2 separate regions of the Homo sapiens genome follow, and region 2 is linked to region 1. The links come from fine-mapping of genetic effects on gene expression. Tissue or cell type: sun-exposed skin. Region 1 holds a variant in brackets; the other region holds the start of a gene. All regions are shown on one strand. Distances are between the middles of the regions.

Region 1 (8,174 bases):
CTTGATGCAGGCTGCCAGCACCCCGCACCTGAACGATCTCAATGGCCTCTTGACTGGTCTCCCCTCCATTTCTACCTATAACCCCCTTCCGTCTTGTCTCAAATGGCCATCAGGGGGATCCTTTTATAGCACGTGTCAGACCAGGTCCCTGTCTGCCCAGAACCCTCCCACGTCCCGCATCTCCCTCAGAGCAAAAGCTTCCCCATCGCCTGACCCCTCGGCCTGTCTGGCCACCGTTCCCTCTGCCCTTAGTCTCTGTGCCTCTCTGCTGTTTCCTGAGGGTCCAAGTCCCACCTCTGGGCCTTTGCACTTGCTGGTCCCTCAGCCTGGAATGTTCTTCTCCGAGAAATCTCTTGGCTTCCTGTAGGCCTTTAATAAAAATCCACCTTCCTGGGCAGTGGGGAGGCCATCCCAGCCACTCCATCTAAAAATGTCAGCAGCTCCTCTCCCCACACTTCAAGTTCCCCTCCCTGCTCAATGTCTTTCTCCTTAGCGCCTACCACTCACTACTGTGCTTAATATTCTACTGATTTACTCCATTTATCATTGGCACCCCCTCCCCTGACTGCCGTGTCCCTAGGGCCAAGAACAGGACTGGCACATAGCAGGTGCTCCATCTATGTTTCTGGGACAAATGAATGAACAAATGAATGAATTCTCACAATAACCCTGCAGGAAGGTGTTAATTTCTCTGCCGATGAGGAAAGTCAGGTTCAGAGAGTTTCGGTAACTTGGCCAAAAGTCCTGCATCTAATAACTGGTGGATATAGTATTAAACTTCACTCAGGTGTGGTTGGCTGCGAACCTGTTTACTCTCCACAGCATCAGGGACCCAGAAGGCAGCCAGAAACCCCGAGTCTCTGGGCAGATGGAGGGTGGAGAGCCCAGGGTGAGACAGATGAGTGAGGTACCCAGAGACCCTTTCTGCTGAGTCTGGGCAAGAGAGTTAAGACCTAGAAGCACAAGGGGACCCACTGATTCCACGCTCTGTGGTTTTCCCCCCACAAGCCCATCTGGCTGTCAGTGGCCTAGACCAGGTAGGACAAGAAATTGCCATAAGAAACCATGAACACTGCTGAGCTCCTACTGTGTGCCAGGCTCCATTCTAAGTCTTTATGTGCGCTAATTAATTTGATCCTCACATTAACCCTACAAGCTGTGTATGATTATTATCATTTTATGGAAGAAGAAACAGAGGCACAGAGAAACTAAGTAACTTGCCCAAGGTCACGCAGCTGGTAAGTAGCAGAGATAGAATTTGAACCCAAGCAGTCTGACGCCAACATCTTCACCATGATACACTACCACCTTGTGAAACAAATCCTCAATTATCTACAGCTTTCCTATGTCGGAGAAAAAGGATTACCCATGAGTGTGAAAAGAGAGGCCTGTTTGGATAATCAGAGCCAGAGATTCCTCCCTGGAAATTTTAAATTCATTTATTCCCTAAACATTTTCTGTCCACCTAGTTTGTGCCAGGCATTGTGCTGGGCACAGAAAGTAATGAGAAGATAAACTTAGTCTCTGACTTCAGGGAGATAGTCAAGAACACCTCCTTGGGAAGCACTGACAGATCCCAGGGGTTGCTGGCTTTGGCTGTGGGCTGTGTTTTATTTCATCTTCACAGGGCAGGTTCTCTATTCTATGCTGGAGGAAACTGAGGCTCAGAGAGTTTAGGACACTCACTCAGGATCACACAGCACAAGGAAGGATTTGAATAGATTTTGACACCATGCTGTCTTCTACTCTGCCATACTGCCCCCCCTCCACTGTGAAGTTCACTCCACAAGACCTGCCTCATCCCCGCCGGGGTCTCCCCTGCCCCCACTCCCCAGTGAGAGCCACCTCCTAGTGCTAATCACACCATAGGCTCTGCAAGTGCTGCTGGTGCCTGTCCCTGGCTGGAGGGTACCAGCCTTGTTTCCCTCCCAACATAGTCCCACCAAGAAGTGCTTGGCCCCAATGTGTGGTCTGATGCCATCTGGCTTGGGGGCAGGGAGGTACCCAGGAAGTGGTGGATCGTATTGTCATTGTTGTCTGTGTCTTGTATTTTGTGTATTTCCACGAACAGCCTCAGGAACGACCAGCAGTGACTGGCTTCCAGGGCTAGAGGTAGCTGCAAAAGGCTATTCAATCCATCCCCTTGCCTCTGTGTAGGGCCATGCCTGGGCCCTTCTGGCCAGGGGATTCTCTTTCATTCTCTGACGGCCTCCCCAGGGGACACTGCCCAGGGTCCCACAGCACATCTGTTTCTCAGGCTGGCCTGGGGCTGGGGCCTCGGGGTTCCCTACCTTCTCCAGGGAGTACGTCAGTGGTGCTCTGTCCCGGGGGCTGGGCTCCTCCCAGGCCAGAACCACATAGGCCTCTCGGATCTCGCTGGCATGGACATTGGTTGGCGGTGAGGGGATGGTCACAGTATCTGAAATCAGAGTCACCCGGGACCGAGATGGTTGGACCCTCAGAGACCCCCTAATCTCAGTGCCTCATTCCATGGAAGAGGGAACTACACCCCTACCCATCCCCCAGAGAGGGGCAGTAGTTGGCTCCAGGTCACTCAGCAATGCTGGGCAGAGCCGGGGCTAGAACCCAGGTCTCCCACTGCTCTGGCCAGGACTTTTCCCAATGTGTTCCCTCCTCCAGGAGGGCCACAGCCAGATGGGCCACAGTGACCCCAGCACTCTGACTGCCTCCAACTAGGCCCCACCTGCCCTCATCCCCCACACCCTGCACTGGGACAGCTTCTGCCTCTTTGCCAGCTCATGTCCCAGAGTTTTGAGAACTATACAGGAGGCCCAGTGTGTGGGAGGATCCCGCGTACCTTCAAAAGCGTCTGTGCTGATGGTGATCTTGTTTCCCAGATCAAAGGGGATCTCTAGGATGAGAAGGGAGCATGGGAGGGTGGGGGGTGGCACAGGAGGAGTTAGGCCAGGAGCTACCCCACACCAGGGTCTGCGTCCTGCCCCGTCCCAGTCCTGGCCTTGCAGCCCTCGCTGTGCAACCTCAGACAGGTGCCCTCCCTCTGGCCTCAGCTTTCTCAGGAGTCCCAAGTGGAGCCCTGCTGCTCTCAGGC[C/T]CTGGCACATGCTCTTCCTCTTGGGACAAGTGGAGACAGAGAGGAGGAGGGAGGTGCCTGGCGCTGGGCACCCTGCCACGGTGGAGCTTCTAGCACACCCAAGTCAGCGTGGCTCCCGAGGGCTGAGAGGAGGCCGTGTCCCCGCACTCGAGCTTAAGGACATCTGACAGGTGCTGGGGTAGGGTGCTCCCTCAGACTGGTCTCTCCCATGGACAGGTTTGGTTTCTCCCATTAGACTAGCTGTATCTTCCTTCTCAGGCTAGGGGTTCCTAAGGACCGGATTGTGTCTCCTCCATCAGACTGGAAGTTCTCGAGGGCTGGCCTTTGTCTCCTTCATCAGACTAGTGTTTACTGAGGGCTGGGCTGTGCTTCCTCCACCAGACTCGGGGCTCCTGAGGGCTGGATTGTCTCCTGTGTGAGACAGTCCTGAGGGTTCCCTGACTGATGTTCTAGAAAGTCGCTTAGGACCTCTGTACCCACCTGTCTTCCTCCGGGCTGCATCATGGTCACCCATGACAACCAACTCTGAGGCCTTGGAGGGGACGCTGCTGCCTACCCTGCTGATGGCTCTCACCCGGAACCGATAGCTCTGACCTTCGACGAGGCCTTGGATTGGGCACCGACAAGTCCCTCCGGGGGCCTCATGGCAGGCGATCCATTCCCCAGACTCGCCCTGGCACCTGTTGGAGACAGGCCCCCCCTTTCAGCCCCTGCCCACAATGCACACCTTCCCAATGTGAGCCTCTACAAGGGCCTTTCTCTGACTGGGGGAGCCTGCCCAGCTCATCTCTGCCAATTAAAGTTCTTCTCTCCAATGGAAGAGCCTGGCTCCAACCTCGGGCCCCCGGGAGACCTTTTCACCATCCCTGACACTGACCAGCAGCAGTGCCTTTCATGGGGCATCATCGTGAGCCTGTGACTGTGCTGTGCCCTCCACACCCAGCCCTCGTTTTATCTCCCTGGCAGTCCTAGGGGGCACGTGTGGTCACCTTCACTGCACACATGGAGGATCTGTGGCTCAGAGAGTGACAAGACCTGCCCAAGGTCACACAGTTAGGATTTACCTGAGCTTGTCCCCTCCCTAAGTTGGCATGCATTCCAGGTTGACCCTCCAAGCCTGGGCTCTCTGTACCCTCTTGGTACCATTGTTCCAGGCAGTACGACAGTGCACGTTACCCTTATTGTTACCAGCTGGTTGAGGTAGTCGTCACATGTGGGTCCAAGTCTTGTCTCCACCACTAATGACAAATGTGTCTTTGAGCAAAGTCATCTCCCCACATACTTTGGTTTCCCCATCTATAGAAGAGGGCATTAGATAGTCCCCCTCCCCTTTAGAGACGGGTCATTGGAAGGATGGAAAGAGATGAGGCATGCCCTTAGCACGGTCATGAGCCTGTCCGTGGCAGCATTAGCTATTTTCTCAAGCTGGGCCTTCAGAGCCGGCCACACTGGAAAAAGGCCGGAGGTTCTGGCCTCTCTACCTGTTTGCCTCCTCCCTTGGGGTCAGTGCTATTCCATCTCTCTCTGTCATTAGGAAGGAAACTAGCCCACGAATTCACTGTGCTCAGGGTTCAAGCACTCCCCGTTTTGCCCCTCTGGGTCAGCTCTAGAGGGTCCACAGGGCAGTGGCCGACTCCAGCATAGAATTCCAGTTATCAGCATGACAAAGACTTGGAGGTGTGGATGCCCCTCCATTGCCCCTAAATGACACAGCACAGCCTGTCTCCTGTCCTTTTCTGAGGAGCGGGGGTGTGAGGGTTCTCTGAGGTCAGACATGGGGCCTCCTCTTTGCTGTGGCTCCCACCACCAGACAGAATTCTACCCCTAGGGCCTCTGCCACTCACGAGGTCGACTCACCGCTCAATGGTGTAGGCAGTGATGGGGTTGCCCCGGGTGTCACTGGGCGGGGCCCAAGTCAGGATGAGGCAGTCTCTGTTCACATCCAGGCATCGGACGTTCAGTGGGGAGCCTGGGGCCCCGGGGTTCTCGGCCTCGGCATCTGAAACCCGGGGGTGAGAGGGAGGCCCTTCTAGTCAGTGGCCATTTGGTGACAGGCCCTTCCCACTCCCGCCCAGCATCCTCTTCTCATCCATCCTCCAGGGGCTCAGTTTTGATCTTGAGGACTGGGGCCTGAATATTAGTCCCACTACCCCCATAGCAGTATCTGAGGGAAGGATGACAGTACCATTTCTTGGGGGCCCATTTTACACCAAGTACCTGAACAAGTGGAATAATTAATTCCAGCCCCAGAGCAGCCTTCCCCTCTTTGGATGGGGAAACTGAGTCTCCTGGAGGTGAGTGAGTGACCTGCCCAAAGTCACCCAGCTGGTGAAGTGACAAAGCCAGGATGTGAACCCAGGCCCTAAGCAGTGGCCAGAATCACTCCAGCCCCACACTCAGCTCCCAGCCTCCCTGGCTCCAGCCAGGCTAACTCTCGGGCCATGTCCCTTTGGAGGGTCATAGGATGCCACGGGGAGTCTTGGAGACCCCAACCCAAAGCCCTGATTTTATGGTAGAGAAATTGAGGCCCCAAGAGAGCAGGGTCCTTGCCTAAGGTTCCACAGCAAACAAGGGGCAGAGCCCTGGTCTCTGGGCTCCTGCTGCTACCCTGCGCCCACCCATGCCCTCACCTCTCACAAGCACGTAGGTGCTCTGTTCCCGGGGTCCGAAGGGCGAGGGCACCCGGACCATGTAGAGCCCCTCGTCCTCCTTGTAGGTGCAGGACACCTTCAGGGATGCCTGGCGGTCTGTGTAGAGGATCTTCCGACGTCTCGAGGACCTCAGTAGGCTCCCTGTGGAGGGGAAGTGGGGGGCCATTGAGTTTGTGGGGGGTCCTGGTCTCACCTGGGAACCACAGAAACTGGGGGGTCTGGAGACCCTGGCTGGGCAGAGAGAGAGGCTGGTGAGGCTCAGCTCAGGCCTTGGGTGGGGGTGGTGGCCTCCAGGGCTTTGCCAAGGCAGGCAGTGGAGAACTCTCCTTTGCAGAGGGCTTGGGGAGTAGGGAAGGGCCAGTGCGGGGCTGGGGCTCAATGAGGGAGTGAGGGTTTAGGGACATAGCCAGTGACAAGGTGAGGAGTTGTAGGTTCTCTGAGGGAGTAGGAGCAAGAGAGATGGGTCCCTGTATGGGGTCAGGGGACTCAAAGAAGGAGGGCCCGTTTGGGGGAGGTGGGAGCTCAGTAAAGGGCCTGGGTCTCACTGAGAGAGCTGGGGCCTCGGTGAGGCGGGTGGAGGACGTGTCGTGGGGTCAGGGGTCAGGTAAGGGAGTGAGGGCTCTCGGGATGGGAGCTTAGGAGGTGGATGGGGACTCAGAAGTGGAGTCCAGGGCTCAGGGGCGGGCCCTGCCTTGAGGCCACACTGTGGGGCCAGCTCTTCTCTTTGCCCCATGTGAAGGATCCGCCCTCCATTCAGCACCTCCATTCTGGAAGATCTACACGTTTGGGAAGACGTCTCAGCCTTGTTATTGCAGCTGTCAGGGATCCTGATGGCTCCCATACTCCCTGCTCCCAGCAGGTGCAGCCTCCCTGGGCTCAGAGCTGGGGGTGCCAGAGGGGCACTGTACTCTGGGTCCTTAGGCTATAGGCCTAGTCATGGATTGGGTAGGAGGTCCAGCCGTCGTCCTCCTCCCTCACTGGGCCACGTCTTCCTGCCTTGGCTCTGACCAGGCTTCTCAAGGCCTCGCCTGAGACATCCCCAGAGGCCTCCCAGCCCACGGGTCAGCAACTGTATCTGCACCACCACCCTGACTCTGCAAAGTCCGATGCAACTGTTGCAGCCTGCCCTGAGCACTTGTGGTGCCCTCCTGCCTCCCGATCTTGGGGCTCTGTTCCCATTGCTTTGAGTGCCCTCACTCACTTTTTTTTTTTTTTTTTTTTGAGATGGAGTCTTGCTCTTGTCCCCCAGGCTGGAGTGCAATGGTGCCATCTCGGCTCACTGCGACCTCTGCCTCCTGGGTTCAAGCGATTCTCCTGCCTCAGCCTCCCGAGTAGCTAGATTACAGGCACCCACCAACATGCCTGGCTAATTTTTGGTATTTTTAGTAAAGATGGGGTTTTGCCATGTTGGCTAGACCTGAACTCTTGACCTCAGGTGATCCACCCACCTCAGCCTCCCAGAGTGCTAGGATTACAGGTGTGAGCCACCACGCCTGGCCTCCCTCCCTCACTCTTAGGGAGGTAATGATGCATGCAAATGGCTGAGCAGGTGCCTGGTCAGTGCCAGCGGCTACAATTGTGCTGATGGCTTCCTCCCTCCTCCCAGGTGGACACAGCCCCCTGGGCTCATGCACATCTGCCCCTACCATTTACCCCAGCCCTAACCCAGGGCCTGGCACCCCACAGATGCTTGGTGGCCATTTATGGGGTGGCATGATCTGACCACACCTGGCTGCACTCCCGCTCTCCTCTGCCTCTTCAGCACTTTAGCACAGTTGGTACTGGTTGGGGAGAGTCTCTGTCCGCTAGGGGTCCTCTCTGGCTCTGAGTTGAGCTTTGGAGGGGCCAGCTCTGGAGGCTGGGGGCCAGGACTGGGGGTCCTTACCATCTCGGAACCACTGGATGCTCTCAGCATCTAACACATCTTCCGAAAACAAGCATGACAGGGAGAAGGGTTCCTTCTCACGAGCAAAGACTGGCTTCAGCACCGAGGTGAATTCCACGCTGGGGCCAAACGTCGATCCTGGCGTGGGAATGAAATTTGGGGCAGAAGTTTTTGAGGCAGCCAGCCTGGCCTGGGACTTAGGAGTGAGGAAATTTCTGGGGCATCCCTTCTCTTCTGGGTCTTGACTAGGAGAAGGGGACCTGGCCTTGGGGTAGGAGGGGAAGAGACTTATCTAGGTAGTGGTCAGAGCAGCCAAAGAGCAAACATCCCAAGGCCAAGTCCGTTGGTTTTTCTGGCTTTGCCTTTCAAACCCAGTTTAGGTCAGAGAACAGCTCAGCAGCTGGGGACAGCTCTGGGGTACCCTGCGGCCTTTAGAAGTCAGGTGCAGGTATTACCAGCTCATAGACAAACCCCGGTGGACGTCCTTTTATGGGCAGGGGATGGCTATATTCTAAACAGGGACTGTGGGGGTCGGGGAGCAAAGCCTGAACAAAGAATCCCAGGTCCC
Region 2 (8,174 bases), 21 kb after region 1:
AAGCAAGGCTGCATCCCCCCGACCCTGAATGTGCTTCCCTCCTCAAACAGGGTTTCCAGAGGACAGGGCTGTGCCTCTTCCATCACATGGGGGTCTCCAGAGAGCCAATTGTGTCTCCCCCCTCAGACAGGGGGTTCAGAAAGCAGGGATGTCCCTCCCCCCATCAGGTTGGAGCCTCCAGAGGGCTAGGCTGGGCCTCCCTCCTCAGACTGGGGGCCCTGGGAACAGGGCAGTGGCTGGGCGGGGACCCTGTGGCTCCCACCTGCTGCGGAAGGTCCGCCTCCGCACAGAGGAGCCCATGCGCAGGCTGTGCTGCCGCTCCTCCTTCTGCTCCTCCTCCTGCCGGTGCTCCAGCCTGTGAACCTCCATGGCCTGGGGGGGCCGGGGGTCCCCCGCACCTCCCAAGCTGTGCGGCAGAGTCATGGTTACGAGAGCAACAACCTGTGAAGGCCAAGGTCCACGGTCATTCCACCAGGTGCCCGCCTATCCCCTCCCATGCAGTCTTCCCAACATCTCTAGGAGGCTGGCAGGATGGGGGGTGGGGGTGTCCTCTCTGCAGTCGGCAGACAGGGAAACTGAGGTCTGAGAGGGAGAGGGACCTGCCCAAGGTGACAGAGGCAGGCCTTGGGCTCTGAGCCAGGCTTCTCCTCCACCCCATGTGCTCCCCAGCTGAGTGAGCAGAGCCCCCACGTTAGGGAGCAGGGCCCTGGCTTCTAGCTGCTTCCAGCTGCAGCCCAGCCCTTGTCTCACTGTATGATCTGTGGCAAGGTTTTCGCTTCTATGGGCCTCAGCTCCCCAGACAATGAGTAATTGAAACTGTGATGTCCACGGCTGTGTCTATGACTCAGGACGGGCAGGCGTCCCCATTCTTCCTGCACCGGCCATGTTCAGTCCTACCTCTGGGCCTTTGCCCACGCTGGTTTCCTCTCCCGGCACACCCTTCCCCTCCTCCTGGCCCGCTTGGCTCTAGTCATGCTTCAAACCCCAACTGAGGGCATGCTAATTAGCAGAGAGACTCTGAGTCCAGCCCACAGGGTGTGATCCCAGCTCCTTATCCCAGCTTTCAAGTGTGTAACCTTGGGAAAGACTCATGACTTTGTTTCCTCATCTGTAAAATGGGTCTACTAACCTCCCAGGGTAGTTGTGAAGGTTAGATGAGTGCTTGGGGCTTAGTAAGTACAACATAAGTATTAGGCATTAGCATTATTTTTCTAAGAAGCCTTGCAGAAAGACTACAGGCCACCTAGAATTTTCCCTCTTCTCATTTCTTTTGTACTTATTTTCTAGCACTCCACAATTTAGCATTGATTCAGACAATGCTTTCTCTATGTAATTATTTTGTATCTGTGCATCTTGACTGTTCAACAAGACTGTAAGTGAATTAAAAGTAACAATAGTGAGAACTTACTATGTTCCATGCCCATGTTAGTTTTCAAATGCATTATCCCCAGTCCCTGCAATAACCCAAATGAGGACAGCACCATTATTATCCCATTTTACTGATGAACAGGGGCAGTACTTGCTCAAGGTCACCCAGCATGATGGTGGGGCCATGACTGGCAGCCAATCCCTAGCCCAACCCCTAGCCCTTCTGATCTCTATGTCATATGTCCATTCAAGGCCAGGCCGTGGCAGAGGCTGGGGACACGGTGGGCCACAGGGCCTTTCTCCTTATAAGGGGATTGCAATGTACACATCTCCTTTGCATTCCCAAGGCTCAAGTCTAGGCCCGTGATGGCGCCCAGTGGGGCCGGATCAGATTGACCCAGGGGAGGCTCAGGAAGCGGATCCATGGATATGGAGAGGCAAACGAGGGGTGTGGGAGGCCCGTGTGCCCGCTGGCTGTGGGTTTTTGCACTGAGTTTTCTCATATCCGGGCTTCAGTCACTGCTGGGTCTCTGAGGGCCCCCCTGATGCTAAAGCTAAAATCCCTGGAATGGCTTTCACACCTCCTCCAGGTGGGAATCCTGGTCTGCAGGCTTCTGGCATGGGAGGGTTCCTGCCCAGGCGTGGGGATGGAAACAGAAGAGGGATGACCGCCTGCCTTGGCCTGCTCCTGTCAGCTTCTGTGGGGTCAGCTCTGTCTGGCCCCTGCCTCTCTAGAGGGTCCTGCTGGAGGTGGCAGCGTGTGTGTGTGTGGGCGTGCATGTGTGTGTATGTGTGTGTGTGCGTGCATGTGTAGGCTGTCTTCTGCCTGGATGTGAACACAGCACCTAGGTGACCATTTCTCTAAGTCCATGGCATGGAAGGTGAGCCCACTGGCTTTATTGGAGAGCCGTTGGCCTGGAAGGGGCATGTGGTGGAGGTGTCTGGGGCTCGGGCTGTGGAGGGTCAGTCTTAGTGGGCTTTTACCCCTTCTACTTCCTAGAAGTTTGCTCCTTTTGGGTGTCTGCAGTTGTGGGCATCAGGAAAAAGAGAATGGATGGCTGCAGGGTTAGCTGGGACCAAGGGCTGCCCCCTAAAGCTCCCTGGGCTCCTGCTAATCATCTCAAATGACATAATGGGACAGTCACCCTCTTTGGCTTCGTATCACTCCCTCCCGATGGAAGAAGTTCTCTTTGCACCCAAAGAAGTGGCTAGCCCTGCTCATTCTGCTCTTTCTTCCTCATGGCCCAGGAGGAGAGCTGCTGGGTACCACCCTAGGTGGAGCAAGGACCCCCCACTCTGCCCCAGCTTTCCTGGGACACGATGGCCCTGGCTCCAGTGGCTGAGAGTTAACATTCCCTGGCACCAGCCACTGGCTCCCTTCCCCTGGATGCTCTGTTCCCGATTAGCACAGCAGGCAGGGGCCTGGCGCTCGTCCCTGACCTCGGGGCCTCCAGCAACCAGACCCCTGGCTTTAGCGGATGAGCTACCAATTCTTTTTAAAGCACTGACTGATGCGTGGTATTAAGCAGGGACAAGTTTGCGGCCTCACTGCCCTTTCCCAAAGGACCAGGGTGCCTCTTCCCGGAACACTGTGTGTGCCTGCGTGGAGGGGAAACTGCCCCCGCTTCCCTCTCTTGGGGTGCAAAAATCTGGGCCAGAGGTCCCACTGCGTGGCCTTCCCTATTCCCCTCTGCTTTCCTCCCAAGCCTCCATCTGCCGAGGAGGCCTCTCCCCTTCTTCAGGAGGGAAAGAGGAATGCACAGCAGTTGAGCCAAGACCCCTCCAGGAGCTGCGATGGGGGCGGATGGTGGCTGGGAGCAGAGACACATCCTGCGGGCGGCGGGTGGCACAGGCTGGGACGTGTTCTTAGCCAGTGGCTCCACCAGCTTCCGCGAGGCCGAATCCTGCCCTTGCCAGTCATGAGCTGAGGCAACTCCTTTCCCGTCTGGGCCTCGGTTTCCTGTCAGGCACTGGATGAAATCCCTTCCAGCTCTAAGATTTGGGATCCGAGGGCTCGCTCTCTTTCCCTGCCTGTGGGGTTGGCCAAGCCGGGCTCAGCCAGCTCCGCTCTAAGTTCGTGGAACTTGCCAGCTTAGCCTGGCTCCCGCTTATCGCTGCTCCATCACAGGAAAGACTCCAGTTCCCAGGGCAGCCCCCACTCTTTTTTTTTTTTTTGCAACTTTCACATCACAGACAGCTCAGCTCTCAGAAGACCCAGGGCCACACAGAACAGTGGGATGGGGCAGGGGTTTCTGGAATCCCCTCCCATTTTCACTTGGGTGCTGCCTCAGCACAAATTTCCCAGGCTCCTTTCACAACACACAACACACATACACACAAACACACACACGTGCACACACACACACACATGCACCCACAGATATCACTCCCCAGTGGCTGACTCTTAGGAGGCATCCCTCCCCCACCCTGATTTCTGGGGGTGACTCACAGAAGCAGTGTGCCCACTTAGGAGTCTCTGGGGAGAAGATTCCTGAGGCCGAGAGGGTCCTTGTTCTCTTCTTGCCCTCGGCTCAGCGGGCACCGGGAGAAGAATGCGATCCCGGAGACTGCACCGTCTTAAATATAGCAGCACTGAGACAGTACAATGACAATGGATGAGAACTATGGCATCGGGGACAGGGGGCCAAGGGGAGGGGCCATTCCGTGTCTCCAGCCTGCTGGGCAGCAGCGACAGGTGGAGCTGTCCGCCGCGTCCCCCCACACTGCTCCTCCTCTCAGCTGGGTCCTTTCTGCCCAACCCAAGCCCCTGTTAAAATGGAAAGGAGGGAACGGCTCAGGCATGGTCGTATGGAGGGCAGATCCCGTGCGGCGTTCTCAGCTGTCGGGAGTTCTGATCTGAATTCTGCCCCGGCTGACTGGGTGCCCTGGGGAAGGCGCTCAGCTTCCCTGAACTGACTGCCTTCTGAAAAACGGAGACAGTGAGACTGGGCACCTGGACTTCATGAAGACGGTGGAAGGAATATGACCTAAAAGTGAGTGTTTCGTGCTCAGAAGTTGTCACTGGCTAAAACAGCAATGTGTGGCTCCTGGTCCCTCCACCACTCCGGTAGTTACTACACGGCCCCCGCCCTGACCACAGTCATGTGTGTGTGGTGTGGTGCAGGCAGGAGGAGCTGGGGAGCCACCTACTGCTTCACTGTGCAAACTGCTCAGGCTGCCAGAGTGTCCCCTGAAGGGCCTTCTTATAGGGTAAACGCACCTGACAGGGATAACTGAAGCACGCTCCAAGAATGACCCTGTGTGGAAGACCTGAATATGTGTTCCGAGCTAAGGAATCTGGGGAGTAGCCAACCCGTTTCTTACCTACGATGAATATCTGAGCCCCCGTCCCGTCCCTTCTGGTGGAACGCTGGCCATACAGGGGATTGAGGCCCTGAGTTTTGGGTTAAATGAAGATTGCCAGGTGGAGGTCATTAGGGGATGGTGTAAAGTGAAAATGCTCTATAAACTGCATGCTGTTTGCAAGGGGCTGAGGTTTTCCTGCCCAGTCGGCCGCCACTGGTATGTTGTCCAGCCCGCCGCCCCTGGACCATTTCTGTATGTAAGGCGGTTCTCCTGTCCAGTTCATCACCAGTGGACTCTCTCTCCTGTAGGCAAGCCCCTAACAAACCCCCACGTTCCTTCCTTTCCTTCCTTCCCTTCCTTCTCTCCCTTTCTTTTTCTTTCTTTCTTTCTTTCTTTCTTTCTTTCTTTCTTTCTTTCTTTCTTTCTTTCTTTCTTTCTTTCTTTCTTTCTTCTTTCTCTTTCCTTCCTTCCTTCCTTCTTTCCTTCTTTCCCTCCCCCCCTCCTTCCTTCCTTCCTTCCTTCTCTCTCTCTTTCTTTCTTTCTTTCTTTCCTTCTTTCCTTCTTTCTTTCCTTCTTGAGTCAGAGTCTCACTTTGTTGTCCAGGCTGGAGTGCAGTGGCATGATCTCAGCTCACTGCAACCTCCGCCTCCTGAAACCCCCATGTTCCGTTTGCTGGCTATGGATCTTTTCTTTGGCCTCTCAAACCTGGTGCCTTCCCTACTGAGGTTAATAGGTGTTCGGCACCACACCTCTTCCCACCCTTTGCCCTCTCCTGCCATTCCCTCAGTCTCAATTCTTTCCCCCTCACATTCATTGGCACCTACCCTATGCCAGACCCTAACCTACAGGGGAAGTCAGGCACTTACGACAGGAGGTGATCAGGAAGGTGCACCTGGGTCGAGTCTCAGAGGATGAGCCGGTGAGGGGAAGGCTGTACCGGCCCCTAGCCAGAGAGCACAGCTTCCCTCCCTCACCCCTTCCTGCGACCTCAGGTGGCCACCCACACTACACCTGTCACTCTTGCTGGTGCCTCAGGGACTCCTCACTCGAGAGAAGGAGAGAGAGAGCACAAGTGAACTTTGCAGGCAAAATCTGAATCCCCTGCCCTATTTGAAAACCCCTTTCTAAGCTCTTCTGTGGCTCTCTCTTACAGCATCTTTTGGGAGAGAACATTTCTCTCCCATCTTCTATTGACCCAATCGAACAAGGGCTTTCCAAGACTCATCTTCATACATTTGCTGTGAGGGATGAGTGTGAGTGAATCCGTACGAACAGCAAAGAGGGCTTTGAGCTTCCAACTGAGCAGGAGACAGTCATTTAAACAGGTCCTCTAGCCCCGTCCTCCCAAGGCAATCTGGGGAGATGAATGAAGGTGCACTGGAGAGACAGGGTGCATCCTGGAGTCAAACCGGCTTAGGCTTTCAATTCAGTCCCACCACTTATTAGCTGGATGACCTTGGGGAAGGCACTCAGCCAGTGTGGTTTGATTATCTGTACAGTTGAAGACAACAATTTCCACTTAGCTGTCTCATTGAAAATGTTCAATCAGGCTGGGCATGGTGGCTCACACCTGTAATCCCATCACTTTGGGAGGCCGAGGCGGGTGGATCACCTGAGGTCAGGAGTTCGTGACCAGCCTGGCCAACATGGTGAAACCCCGTCTCTACTAAAAATACAAAAATTAGCTGGGTGTGGTGGGGGCGCGCCTGTAATCCCAGCTGCTTGGGAGGCTGAGGCAGGAGAATTGCTTGAACCCAGGAGGTGGACGTTGCAGTGAGCTGAGATGGCGCCATTGCACTCCAGCCTGGGTGACAGGAGTGAAACTTTGTCTCAAAAAGAAAAGAAAAAAAAAAAGAATAGAAAAGAAAAGAAAAGAAAATGTTCAACCAAGAACCGTGAAACCTCCAGCACGGCGTCTGGCCCCGGACAGACGTTTGCTAAATGAAAGCTCTAGGAATGCTGATGGCTTTCTCTTACCCCATGCTTCTGGGGGTGGGATTCCCATGTATCCCTTTGTTGACCTCACCCCAGTGAAGCACTCAGTCATCACTGGAACCTCTGTAAACATGGCCAAGCCTAAGGTCATGCGGCTGAGCAGAGAGATTAGATGACTTGATGTTATACAAGCCTTGGTTTAAATCCCAACCTCTGGTGCCTCAGTCACTAACAGGGGGACCTTGGCCTCCTTTCTGGGCCTCAGTTTCTTTCTCTGTAGGTGGAGGACACATTCCAAGATAGCAGAGAACTTGCCTGCCTGACCATATCCCTACCCCCGAGAACAGTGCTTGGCATACACCTGGCCCTCAATTCACATTTATTTACAAATGAATCAGTGGGCTGGGCGCAGTGGCTCACGCCTGTAATCCGAGCACTTTGGGAGGCCGAGGCAGGTGGATCATGAGGTCAGGAAATCGAGACCATCCTGGCTAACAAGGTGAAACCCTGTCTCTACTAAAAATACAAAAAATTAGCAGGTCGTGGTGGTGGGCTCCTGTAGTCCCAGCTACTCAGGAGGCTGAGTTAGGAGAATGGGGTGAACCCGGGAGGCAGAGCTTGCAGTGAGCTGAGATGGCGCCACTGCACTCCAGTCTGGGAGACCAGAGAGAGACTCCGTCTCAAAAAAAAAAAAAAAAAAGAAAAATGAATCAGTGAATGGTTACTGTCTTAGTTCGTTTGAGCTGCTACAACAAAATACATTAGACAGGGTCATTTATAAATAACAAAAGTTTATTTCTTACGGTTCTGGAGACCAAGAAGTTCAAGATCAACGTGCTAGCAGATTCAGTGTCTGGTGAGGACCTGCTCTCTGCATCATAGATGGTGCCTCTTGTGGAGTCCTCATGTGGTGGAAGGGGCTAGGGCACTCTCTTCAACCTCTTTTATAAGGGCATTAATCCCATTCCATTTTTATTTTTTTCCCCGAGACAGGATCTTGCTCTGTTGCCCAGACTGGAGTGCAGTGGTGCAGTCATGGCTCACTGCAGCCTCAACCTCTTGGGCTTAAGTGATCCTCCTACCTCAGCCTCCTGAGTAGCTGGGACTATAGGCACGCACCACCACACCAGGCTAATTTTTGCGTTTTTTGTAGAGACAGGGTCTCACTGTGATGCCCGGGCTGGTCTCAAACTCCTGGCCTCAAGGGATCTTCCCACCTTGGCCTCCCAAAGTGCTGGGATTACTGGCTTGAATCACCACCATGCTGGCCTCTTGATCCCATTATTGAGGGCATAGCCTTCATGGCCTTCCAAAGGGCTCACCTCTTGCTACTATTACATGAAGTTTCAACATATGAATTTTGGGGGGACTCCAACATTCAGACTATAGCAATTGCCTATCTTGCAGAATGGCTGGGAGACTCAGATAAGGTTAAATGTGTAAAATACCTACTATAGTACCTGGCTTATCTTTCTTCTTTCTCCCCTTGCCTTCTTTTCTCTTTTATTCCCTTCCCTGGACTTATGACCATTAAGAACAAACTGACTGCTCTGAACCTCCATGCT

What was found. PIP is the estimated chance that this variant, and not a neighbour inherited with it, causes the effect.
Region 2: MYOM3 starts here. The variant in region 1 is fine-mapped to the expression of MYOM3 in sun-exposed skin (GTEx, PIP above 0.99).

Annotation. Positions count from the first base shown.
Region 1 is chr1:24,087,247-24,095,420 of GRCh38, forward strand. It overlaps MYOM3 (myomesin 3), which reads right to left. Exons shown (of 37, transcript NM_152372.4): 9 at 7,607-7,744; 10 at 5,701-5,862; 11 at 4,928-5,069; 12 at 3,551-3,750; 13 at 2,819-2,872; 14 at 2,292-2,419. Among named protein-coding and RNA genes, the nearest start is that of MYOM3, 21 kb to the right of the region's middle. RefSeq lists an enhancer at 5,733-6,396. The variant C/T (reference allele first, on the strand shown) is at 3,071.
Region 2 is chr1:24,108,214-24,116,387 of GRCh38, forward strand. It overlaps MYOM3 (myomesin 3), which reads right to left and starts at 3,922. Exons shown (of 37, transcript NM_152372.4): 1 at 3,818-3,922; 2 at 263-441. The coding sequence starts at 423. RefSeq lists an enhancer at 4,124-4,632.